Homo sapiens: one gene and its partners. The protein of the gene in region 3 purifies or fractionates together with the protein of the main gene of each other region. This does not show direct contact. Each region holds a gene or a part of one and is shown on either strand. Other genes may lie near its edges.

Evidence for each region.
Region 1: the proteins of RUSC2 (region 3) and P4HA2 purify together in Homo sapiens (co-immunoprecipitation; one large-scale study listed by IntAct). This does not show direct contact.
Region 2: the proteins of RUSC2 (region 3) and WDR47 purify together in Homo sapiens (affinity purification with western blotting; one study listed by BioGRID). This does not show direct contact.

The regions. Positions count from the first base shown.
Region 1 is NC_000005.10:132,217,828-132,221,478, reverse strand, and holds part of P4HA2 (prolyl 4-hydroxylase subunit alpha-2 isoform 2 precursor), read left to right. Parts: intron 1-2,834; 5' UTR 2,835-2,852; coding exon 2,853-2,934; intron 2,935-3,560; exon of another isoform or gene 3,561-3,630; coding exon 3,631-3,651. UniProt on the Homo sapiens protein: Catalyzes the post-translational formation of 4-hydroxyproline in -Xaa-Pro-Gly- sequences in collagens and other proteins.
Region 2 is NC_000001.11:109,011,103-109,014,753, reverse strand, and holds part of WDR47 (WD repeat-containing protein 47), read left to right. Parts: intron 1-826; exon of another isoform or gene 827-828; coding exon 829-913; coding exon of another isoform or gene 914-934; intron 935-3,035; coding exon 3,036-3,651.
Region 3 is NC_000009.12:35,545,476-35,549,126, forward strand, and holds part of RUSC2 (AP-4 complex accessory subunit RUSC2), read left to right. Parts: intron 1-954; 5' UTR 955-1,046; coding exon 1,047-3,060; intron 3,061-3,651. UniProt on the Homo sapiens protein: Associates with the adapter-like complex 4 (AP-4) and may therefore play a role in vesicular trafficking of proteins at the trans-Golgi network.

The DNA of each region.
Region 1 (3,651 bases), on a different chromosome or scaffold from region 3:
AAAAACTCATTGTATAGAAGAAATGTAAAATCTTCTATTGTTGTAGTTTCCTAATTTGAACAAGTCTGTGGTGAAGTATTTTTTGTTGTGTTCCTGGTATGGGACAGACATTGTTCTAAACTCTGGGGATGCAGCACAGATAAAACTCAGTATTGGTTTTCTGCTCAAGATGTCACTTTGTTTTTCATAAAAGTGGGTTTGACATTGTTCACCTCCAGACTTATTCCAGTTGGATTCTGAGGGTTTCTGGGAGGGCTTTTAGCAGCACTGGACACTTTGTAGGGGCACTCAGCAGGTACACATACTTTCACCTACTCTGTCTTAAGCAAGCTGTGGGCATAGTTATGAGATGGGTTGGAGGTTGGCCTTTCCCACATTGTGGGGCACAGTCCCTCTCGGATGCTGCCTCCTCCCAATCTGACTCTAATTAGAGGACTTTTTGTACAGAGCCTTTTGAGTTAAGGGGCCCAGGCTTGGGAGAAATGGGGTAGGGCTCCAGAGTACCCCTGCCAGAGATGTCAGTGTTGATGTGGTAGTCTGGGAGCTGCTGCTTGGAGGTGCCCAGCTCTCCAGGCTAGCAGAGTTAGTTATCCCCTTCTCCCACCAGAGCAAGACTTTGCAGGCTCTTGGTAGGTAAGTCATCTGTAATTACCTGTGATTCTTTGAGGCTCTGCCCAAACCCCATCTGTGATTCTTTGAGGCTCTGCCCAAACCCTATCTGTGATTCTTTGAGGCTCTGCCTCCAGGCTGAGATTCAAGAATGGGCTCAGTCTAAGCCAGATCGCACATTCCAGAGAAATCACAGCTGGTATTCATGTAATGAAGAAACCTGGCTTTCCCTGAGTGTTGTGAGGTATGAACCGTAGATGATAGGAGCAGAATGATTTGAAAGGAATGGACAGACTTCCTCCCTGGAATTTATCTGGCCTCTAAAAAGGTATGCAACTGCAACTGGAGACACACCTGGGTAGAGATGCTGGGTTCCCCACTTCCAACCATGTCTGGTTTGGAACCTGCCTGGGCCCTGTTCTCCCACCACCCCAGCTCTGAGGAGCAGTCAGCTGGTCCCTTTCTGATCACAGATACATCCTCCCAGCTCTATGTTTTCACTGTCCCCTCCCTACATACATACAGAAGGTGCTGAGCCTGAGCCAGTCAAGCCTTTTGAGGAACAAGAAACAGACACCCAATCCCTTAGGTATAAGGGGCTTGTGTAAGCAAGAGAGAAGCCTTCTGAAATCCTGGGATAGAGAAGACAGTATAGTAAGGCCTTGGAGCAGACCTGTGGCTAGAACCAGGAGGGCCTGGACTCTGCCTCAGGGCAAGCCCAGGCTTACTCACTTTCTCTTGATGACTTGCTCTCTTCTGCTGCTCTAACTCCCTAATGGACCCCTTAGCACAATACGCCCTACCCTGCAGCAGGTTCCAGGTTGGAAGATAATTGTCCTGTGTGTCTTGGGACCCCCACACCTAGACTATGACAGGAAGACTGTCAGCTCTGCAGACATTTGGCATAGGCATGAACACATGGCGCCATTCACTTATGCTTTCCTTCTGATAGAGGATCCATTTGCAGATGGGAGTTGTGGTTGGCCTTCTCTGAGCCTAACCTGGAATCTCAATGGATTAGGATTTCTTCTGAAAGAGTAAGATGAGGAATGGTGGGTGTGCTGTGTGTCTAATCAAGTATGGCGGGCAAAAAACTGATGAACTGGCATTATCTTAGACTTAGAATTCTGTCAGATAAGGCTTATGTTTTTTTGGGAAAGCATTTGTATTTCCTTTGTTTTGCTTGCTTTGTCTTAGTGAATTTCCATTTGAGCACTCCAGTGGGGTGCTCAAAAGCAGGGCAGGAAGAAGACCGGCAGAGCTGGGGTACAGATGGGTGCTAATCCTCCAGCACAGTCTAGGCTGCATGGCTGAGCTGGGAGACGGTATCGGAGGCTTCTGTTGTGGACTGAGGTTTACTGCCAGTGGGGTTTGTCTCAGGTTGTGCCTATTTCTGGGCTGATGAGAAGACAGTAGCTGGCCCCTTTCCCATGTCAGCAGCCCAGCCTGAGGTTTTGGCCATGTGTGCCATATTCATTTTTGTATCCTGAGTGCCTAGATCAGTGCCTGGCATCTGCAGGTCTTCAGTAAATATTTGTGAATGAATGGTGACGGGCCAGTGAGAACAGTGTCTGCCAAGGAGCCTTACTACAGGAAGAACACTGTCTACCTAGGAGACTGTCTCCTCTGACTGCTCTTTCTCTGGCAGGTGCAGACTGACAAGGGTTAGTTTTATTCCTCTTCTGGCTGGCCATCTGTTGTACACCTTAGTTTGGGTGTTGGTACTCTGGAGGATATTGTGTCAAATTATCTTTCTGTTATTGTCTCTCATGTACTGTTGCCTCCTTGTGGGCAGGGACTGGTTCCCCAAAACCTGGCACTGTCCTGGCATATGTGTTGGAAGGTAAGATAGAAACAAACAGCAGTCTGTGAAATAAGAAGGAGTGGGCCAGAATCTTGGACTGACAGACCATTGGAACCCGAGCTGACTGTACCCCACTGCGATTCCGCCTTCTCATGGTACAGGTGGTTGCTGGGAGTTGAGAGGATGGGCTCTCTCCGCAGGGCACGTGACTTCCCAGAGCAGGGACCAGAATTGAGCACACATCACTGGCTGCACGCTCTTTGTTCTTTCTGCTGTTTGTCCTTTTTAGCTTCTGTGTGCTAGGCCAGGATTTTGATATGTTTGATTATCTGCATATGTGTGTACATGCCTATGTGTCTCCTCACCTAAATTAGTCTTTTTCACTTTGTTGATCCAGTGATTGTCATTGAATGCCTTTCAGACACTTCCCTCTGTGACCATGAAACTCTGGGTGTCTGCATTGCTGATGGCCTGGTTTGGTGTCCTGAGCTGTGTGCAGGCCGAATTCTTCACCTCTATTGGTACGTGCCAACAGGACTGTCGTCTCCCTGACACCTTGGCTCACATGCCACGGATGTCTCTGGCTGCAGCCTGTTCTCATTTAGAGTGGGATAGCCTTAACTACTGGTTTTGGCCAGTTCTGAGGAGAGTGGAACTGGCAGAGTTGCTGTTTTCCCCTATAAGATCCCAATGATCTGGATGTTCAGGGAGCCAGATGTCTGAATTGGGTCTTTCTTCCTGGGAAGTGCAGGCTGCACTTGGGCTCTCTGGTCTTTTTGACCACCTTGCCCATGGACCAGAGAGTGGTTCTGAGCAGCAAATCCTTTGTATCCTGAGGATCAAGCTTTTCCTATCCTTCCGACCTAAAGTTCAGAGCTTTTTATCCTGTGGTGAGCCCCCAGGATATCCATGCCCCAGTGTCATGACCAGCTATGTAACAGTCGGAGAATGAGATTTAGGGCTGCTTCTTGAGTGACATCCAGTGCACTTATCTCAAACATCCCCTTGGTGCCTCTGCCTCTTTCTTCCTGAAGTTGCGAGATAGAGCCCCATGAGTGCCTAGGCCCCCTTTAACTCCAAGTCCCCATAATCCTCAGAGAGCTGACATGTTCTTATCCCAGGGGACTTGCTTCTGTGCTGGTATTCTGTGCCCCAAGGAAGGAGGCTGGACATCCCTCATCTGTTTCTCACTGGTGTCTTTCTTCTCTCCCTTGCAGGGCACATGACTGACCTGATTT
Region 2 (3,651 bases), on a different chromosome or scaffold from region 3:
TTAAAAAGCTTTAAATTGGGACCAGGTGCAGTGGCTCATACTTGTAATCCAAGCACTTTGGGAGGCTGAGGCAGGAGAATTGCTTGAAGCCAGGAATTTGAGATCAGTCTGAGCAACAAAGTGAGACCCGGTCTCTACAAAACAATTTTAAAAATTGGCCGGGTGCTGTGGCACACAGTTGTAGTCCTAGCTGCTTGGGAGGCTGAGGCAGGAGGATTGCTTGGGCCAAAGTTTGAGGCTGTAGTGAGCTGTGATCATGCCACTGTACTCCAGCTTGGGTGACAGAGCAGAAGACTCTGTCTCTAAAAAAAAAAAAGAAAAGGAAAAAAGCTTTAAGTCTCTAGTTATTTTGTAGTGTTTTAGAAATGTTCATTTTCTCCTACCCTTTCAGCCCCATTTTTTATTAGACTTTTCTCATATTTAAAAAGAAAATATTTGATTTAATCTTTCTACAATGTATATGTATTTAAAAATGTAACATACCCCATAAATATATACTATTATTTGTTAAAATTTTTTTAATAAAAAACAGGATGTAAGGTAAACAAAACATTTTGGATATAAGACTTGATTTAATATTAGGTAACATTTGATATCTTCCATAAAAATTGGATTGTTGTTTACAATTAATATTGGAAGTATAAATTCATTCTCTGAGTGTTAAATTGTGATTACTTGTGACTGAACTTCAGTTATGGCTTCAATGTGATAAGAAGCCTAGTAAATTATTTGAATAATTTTCCTAAAGCAAAAGTACTTACATAGTAACTTCTAAGTATATTTGACATCAGACATTGGAAAAATTAATGCTTCATTTTTTTCCCACAGGTTTCGTTATATTATCCTGAAGCAGAAGTTTTTAGAAGCTTTATGTGTTAACAACGCGATGTCAGCAGAAGATGAGCCCCAGCATGTAAGATTTTTATTCCTGAAGGTTTGCGCCCTAGTCTTGTTTTCAGTCATAAGTATTTTAGTCACTAAAACGAAGGATTAGCATCACAAGTTTTCAGAGTTTTTATGAGCTGGGATGGGGCAAGATCTGGTGTTTTCCAGGTGTAGTATTTTCATTCTGTAGCGCTTCTAAACTTGTTCCATGGTTTAAGCCAAGATATATAAATAGCTGGCTAGTTGAAGAGTGTGTGCATCTCTCTTGTTTAAGGTAAGTCAGCAATAGATAAAGTTTGACTTGATGACTCTTCATCATTTCTTCTTTTTTTTAAATCCCGGAAGTGGGTTGGTTATATTTATGTCCTTTTTCTCTGTCTTTTCTGTATTGTCTTTGATCCAGAGATAGTTTTTTTTTTGCTGAAATGTTTGTCTTCATGACTATTTAAATTTAATGAAATTAAATTCATTTTGATTAGTAAAGTGACTTTTAAAGATTCAGTGTAATACTAAAACCGAGAAAACTTGTATTAAGTTCTGGTAATTGTTAACTGAAGTAAAGTGTCTTAGTCCATTTGACCTGCTATAACAAAATATCATAAACTAGGGGGCTAGTAAACAATAGAAGTTTATTTCTTACAGTTCTGGTAGCTGGAAAGTCCAAGATCAAGGTACCAGCAGATTCATTGCCTGGTGAGGGCCTGTGCTCTGGTTCATGGATGGTGCCTTCTAGCTGTGTTTTCAGCTGGTTAAAGAGGCTAGCTAGCTCTCTGGGGTCTCTTATATGGGCACTAATCTAATTCACGAGGGCTGAGCATTTATGACCTAGTCACCTCCCAAAGGCCCTACTTTTCCAATACCATTACCTTGCGGGGTTAGGATTTCAACATAGGAATTTTAGGGAGGCACAAACATTCAGACTGAGGCAAAAACCAAAGGATTTTACAGTGGGGACTTTCAGATACAGATATATTTGCCAGATAATGATGTTCAAAAGTGAAAAGAACACTGGAACATGAGTTAGGAGACCTATTTTTTATTCCGTCTTTGCCACTAATCAACTGAATTACCTTGGTAAATGTGTACCCTGACTTTTCCCATATGTAAGATATGGTGGCTAGACTAGGTGAGTGCTGAAGTTCCTTACATCATTAAAAGCTTATGATTCAAAGACAATATTCACTATACAAATTATTATAATTTGTCTCTCAGCTAAGCTTCCATTTTGGTCTGTCTGGATTGTTTTGTAGTAAGTCAACTTTAGGCATTCCCTTTCTGTTTTTTTTTTTTTTTTTTGAGATGGAGTCTCACACTGTCACCCAGGCTGGAGTGCAGTGGTGCGATCTCAGCTCACTGTAACCTCTGCCTCCTGGGTTCAAGCAATTCTCCTGCCTCAGCCTCTCAAGTAGCTGGGATTACAGGTGCCCGCCACTGTGCCTGGCTAATTTTTTGTATTTTTATTAGAGACGGGGTTTCACTGTGTTGGCCAGGCTGGTCTCGAACCTCATGATCTGCCCACCTTGGCCTACCAAAGTGCTGGGATTACAGGTGTGAGCCACTGTGCTCGGCTCCCTTTTCTTGACTTTCTATCTCCACACAATTTTGCTCTAAGGTAAGTTTGGACTAACAGAGTGGCTCTTTTGCCTTTTGGGTAAGCTGGAATAATAGCAAAGTTTATAAACAATTGAACATTGGCATGCTTCAATTTTCATTTCTAGAAAAAAAATTCTTACCGTTAAAAAATTATATATTTGAGAGCTGGGCACAGTGTGGCACACCTGTGGTCCCAGCTACTTTAGAGGCTGGGGATCACTTGAGCCCAAGAGTTCAAGGCTGTAGTGCACTATATTTGTGTGTATGAATAACCCCTGCACTCCAGCGTGGGCAGCAGAGTGAGATCCTGTCTTATGCCTGAATTATAATAGAACAGTGTTTTTATAGATAAAAGTTTAATGTACTAATAAACCAAGTTTATTATTTTTATTTTAGTTGTGAAAACATTATGTTCCTATCTTGAAAGCTGTTGCATATCCTACAAATTATATGAGTATTCTGTGGCAATATAATTTATTCTTTGTACTCTTGTCGTTTTCATATTTCATAGCATGTTTTTTATAGTGATTATTTGATCATTTATATTTTTCTTACAGCTGGAATTTACCATGCAAGAAGCTGTGCAATGTTTACATGCTCTAGAAGAATACTGTCCTTCTAAAGATGACTATAGTAAGCTCTGTTTGCTTTTGACTTTGCCTCGTCTGACCAATCATGCCGAGTTTAAGGACTGGAATCCCAGCACCGCACGAGTTCACTGTTTTGAAGAGGCTTGTGTCATGGTTGCAGAATTCATCCCTGCTGATAGGAAGCTAAGTGAAGCTGGTTTTAAGGCTAGTAACAATCGTTTATTTCAGCTTGTAATGAAAGGCCTGCTTTATGAATGCTGTGTAGAATTTTGTCAGAGTAAAGCAACTGGAGAAGAAATTACAGAAAGCGAAGTGCTTCTTGGCATCGACCTCTTATGTGGTAATGGTTGTGATGATTTGGATCTGAGTTTACTGTCATGGCTTCAGAATCTTCCATCTTCTGTCTTCTCTTGTGCTTTTGAACAGAAAATGCTTAATATTCATGTTGACAAACTTCTGAAACCTACAAAAGCTGCATATGCTGATCTTTTGACTCCTCTTATCAGCAAACTCTCTCCCTATCCATCATCCCCAATGAGAAGACCTCAATCAGCTGATGCCTATATGACCCGCTCTCTGAATC
Region 3 (3,651 bases):
CAGGAGACCTTGAACAAGAGAGAACTTTGCTTTAGCCTATAAGAGGTAAAACTGGGAAGAGAAGACTTTCTAGTGGATCCCAGTAGTGAAGGTTCTAAGCTAAAACTGGGCAGCATTTGGGCACTTCAGGATGTCTGTATCCTGAGCTAGACGCATGTTAAGAATGTATTATGCCTTTCACGTTTATCTTGTGTGATGTGTTAGAATGATACAAAAGACATAAAACTAGGTCCCCCCACCCCCATTGAGGAGGAAGAGGTTGACATCAGTCATACTTGCAGTCACCCTAATGCCCAACTCAGTGTCTGCATTCAAGAAGTTCTAGTATAGTAGTGAGGATAGTAAGGATACTTAGCCCACGGTCATCAGAAAGGGACAAATATTCTGGGGCTTGTAGGACGAGAAAGGGGATCAGAGATAACAGTCACTTGGTCAGATGATACCGTATATTTTAAAATGCTTCTTGCAAAATTATAGCTTATTGCTATGAGTTCATATTATTCATGATTTTCCCTCTTGGCTGTAAACTTGTGTGCTATAGCTGTGTCTAAGCCTTAAACATCCTAGATGGTTTTTTCTTAATTGTGTCATTATTCATAGTTTTTTTGTGCTAAGGACTGGTCATTGTTTACTGCCAAGGAGAGGGTCCTTGAAAGAGAAAGGGAAAGTACTGCCCAAACCTTCATATGTGGCATTAGAAGGACTTGGCCTTTTGTCATAATTTGATGCATAGTGACCTTAAAATTAAGGGGGACCTCAGGTGCTGCACCTGTGCAATGCAGAAAGCATGGTTACGTCCCCACCTGCCTATTGGGCTGTGTGGTCAAGCTCCATCTTGACTCAAGCCTTTTCTCTTCCTGGGCTCTTCTCCATCTGAAAATGATGTAGGGAAGGGCATGCCCCTGACTTCCAGGGAGGTGACATTAGGTTCCCTTTCTTTCCCTCTCTCTCCAGGTGCCAAGCTCTCCTGATGAAATGTGTTCTGCCCCACTGGGCTCCAGGGACAGTGTCTGGTGCTGTTGAAGCCCTTATTCGAACTTTCCAGAATGGATAGTCCCCCAAAGCTGACTGGAGAGACCCTCATCGTTCATCACATCCCCCTGGTGCACTGCCAAGTCCCAGACAGGCAGTGCTGTGGAGGGGCAGGTGGAGGTGGTGGGAGCACAAGACCTAATCCCTTCTGCCCACCTGAGCTGGGCATCACCCAGCCCGATCAAGACCTAGGACAAGCTGACTCCCTGCTATTCAGCAGCCTGCACTCTACTCCAGGAGGAACTGCACGGTCTATAGACAGCACCAAGAGTAGGAGTCGGGATGGAAGAGGCCCTGGAGCCCCCAAACGACACAACCCCTTCTTGCTGCAGGAGGGTGTGGGTGAGCCAGGACTTGGTGACCTGTATGATGACAGCATTGGTGACAGTGCCACCCAGCAGTCCTTCCACCTGCATGGCACTGGCCAGCCCAACTTTCATCTATCCTCTTTCCAGCTGCCACCATCTGGCCCCAGAGTGGGCAGGCCATGGGGGACAACACGCAGTCGGGCTGGAGTGGTGGAAGGGCAGGAACAGGAGCCAGTGATGACCTTGGATACTCAGCAGTGCGGCACCAGCCACTGCTGCCGGCCAGAGCTGGAAGCAGAGACTATGGAGCTGGATGAGTGTGGGGGACCTGGTGGGAGTGGCAGTGGGGGTGGAGCCAGCGATACCTCTGGCTTTTCCTTTGACCAGGAATGGAAGCTCAGTTCAGATGAATCCCCAAGGAACCCTGGATGCTCCGGCTCAGGGGACCAGCACTGCCGCTGCAGTAGCACATCCAGTCAGTCCGAGGCAGCTGACCAGTCCATGGGCTATGTGAGCGACTCCTCCTGCAACAGTTCAGATGGTGTGCTGGTCACCTTCAGCACCCTCTACAACAAGATGCATGGCACCCCCCGTGCCAATCTCAACTCTGCCCCACAGTCCTGCAGCGACTCTTCCTTCTGCAGCCACTCAGACCCTGGCGCCTTCTATCTGGATCTGCAGCCCTCCCCATTTGAGTCTAAGATGTCTTATGAGTCCCATCACCCTGAAAGTGGAGGAAGGGAAGGGGGCTATGGTTGCCCTCATGCCTCTTCTCCTGAGCTTGATGCCAACTGCAACTCCTACCGCCCACACTGTGAGCCGTGCCCAGCAGTGGCTGACCTCACAGCCTGCTTCCAAAGCCAGGCCCGTCTTGTTGTGGCCACACAAAATTACTATAAACTTGTCACCTGTGACCTATCTTCCCAATCATCCCCAAGCCCTGCTGGCTCTTCCATCACTAGCTGCTCTGAGGAACACACCAAGATAAGTCCCCCACCAGGCCCTGGCCCAGACCCAGGCCCCAGCCAGCCCTCTGAGTATTACCTATTCCAGAAGCCAGAAGTCCAGCCAGAGGAACAAGAAGCAGTGAGTTCCTCCACCCAAGCAGCAGCTGCTGTGGGCCCCACTGTGCTTGAGGGACAAGTATACACGAATACTTCACCCCCCAACCTCAGCACTGGACGTCAGCGCTCCCGCAGCTATGATCGCAGCCTGCAGCGCAGCCCTCCTGTCCGCCTGGGCTCGCTGGAACGTATGTTGAGTTGCCCAGTGCGCTTGAGTGAGGGCCCTGCAGCCATGGCCGGGCCTGGCTCCCCACCCAGGAGGGTCACCTCCTTTGCCGAGCTGGCCAAGGGCCGGAAGAAAACTGGAGGCTCTGGCTCGCCCCCACTTCGTGTGAGTGTTGGGGACTCCTCCCAGGAGTTCTCACCCATCCAAGAAGCCCAGCAAGATCGGGGGGCCCCACTGGATGAGGGCACTTGCTGTAGCCATAGCCTGCCACCCATGCCTTTGGGGCCAGGCATGGACCTACTTGGCCCAGACCCAAGTCCACCCTGGTCCACCCAGGTCTGTCAGGGACCCCACTCCAGTGAGATGCCTCCTGCTGGCCTCAGAGCTACTGGGCAAGGCCCCCTGGCTCAGCTGATGGATCCAGGGCCTGCTCTCCCAGGGAGCCCAGCCAACAGCCATACCCAGAGGGATGCAAGAGCTAGAGCTGACGGTAAGGAGCCTAAGGGTTAGCAAATATGTGGCTATTCACCAGCAGGATATGCATGGCCACCTCCCTGACAGGTCCCTGCCAGACCACCCCATCCATACCACTAGAGGTTCCACATCCTAGATCTGTTATCCTTCTAGGCCAGGGCAGGACCCACAGCTACAGTGGAATAGGCTCACTGGAGAAAGACAGAGGACTCAAAAATACACTGAGCAGACTGGGTGCAGTGACTCACACCTGTGATCCCAGCCCTTTGGGAGGCCAAGCCAGGCGAATCACTTGAGGTCAGGAGTTTGAGACCAGCCTGGCCAACATAATGAAACCCCAGCTCTACTAAAATAAAAAATAAACTAGCCAGGAGTGGTAGCACCCACCTGTAATCCCAGCTACTCAGGGGGCTGAGGCAGGAGAATTGCTTGAACCCAGGAGGTGGAGGTTGCACTGAGCTGAGATCATACCACTGCACTCCAGCCTGGGCAGACAGAGTGAGATTCTGTCTCAAAAAAAAAAAATAAATAAATACACTGAGGAGATAAAATCAGCAGGACTTAGAGGCTGACATATTGGGAAATGAAGGATTCAGAAGACTGATTC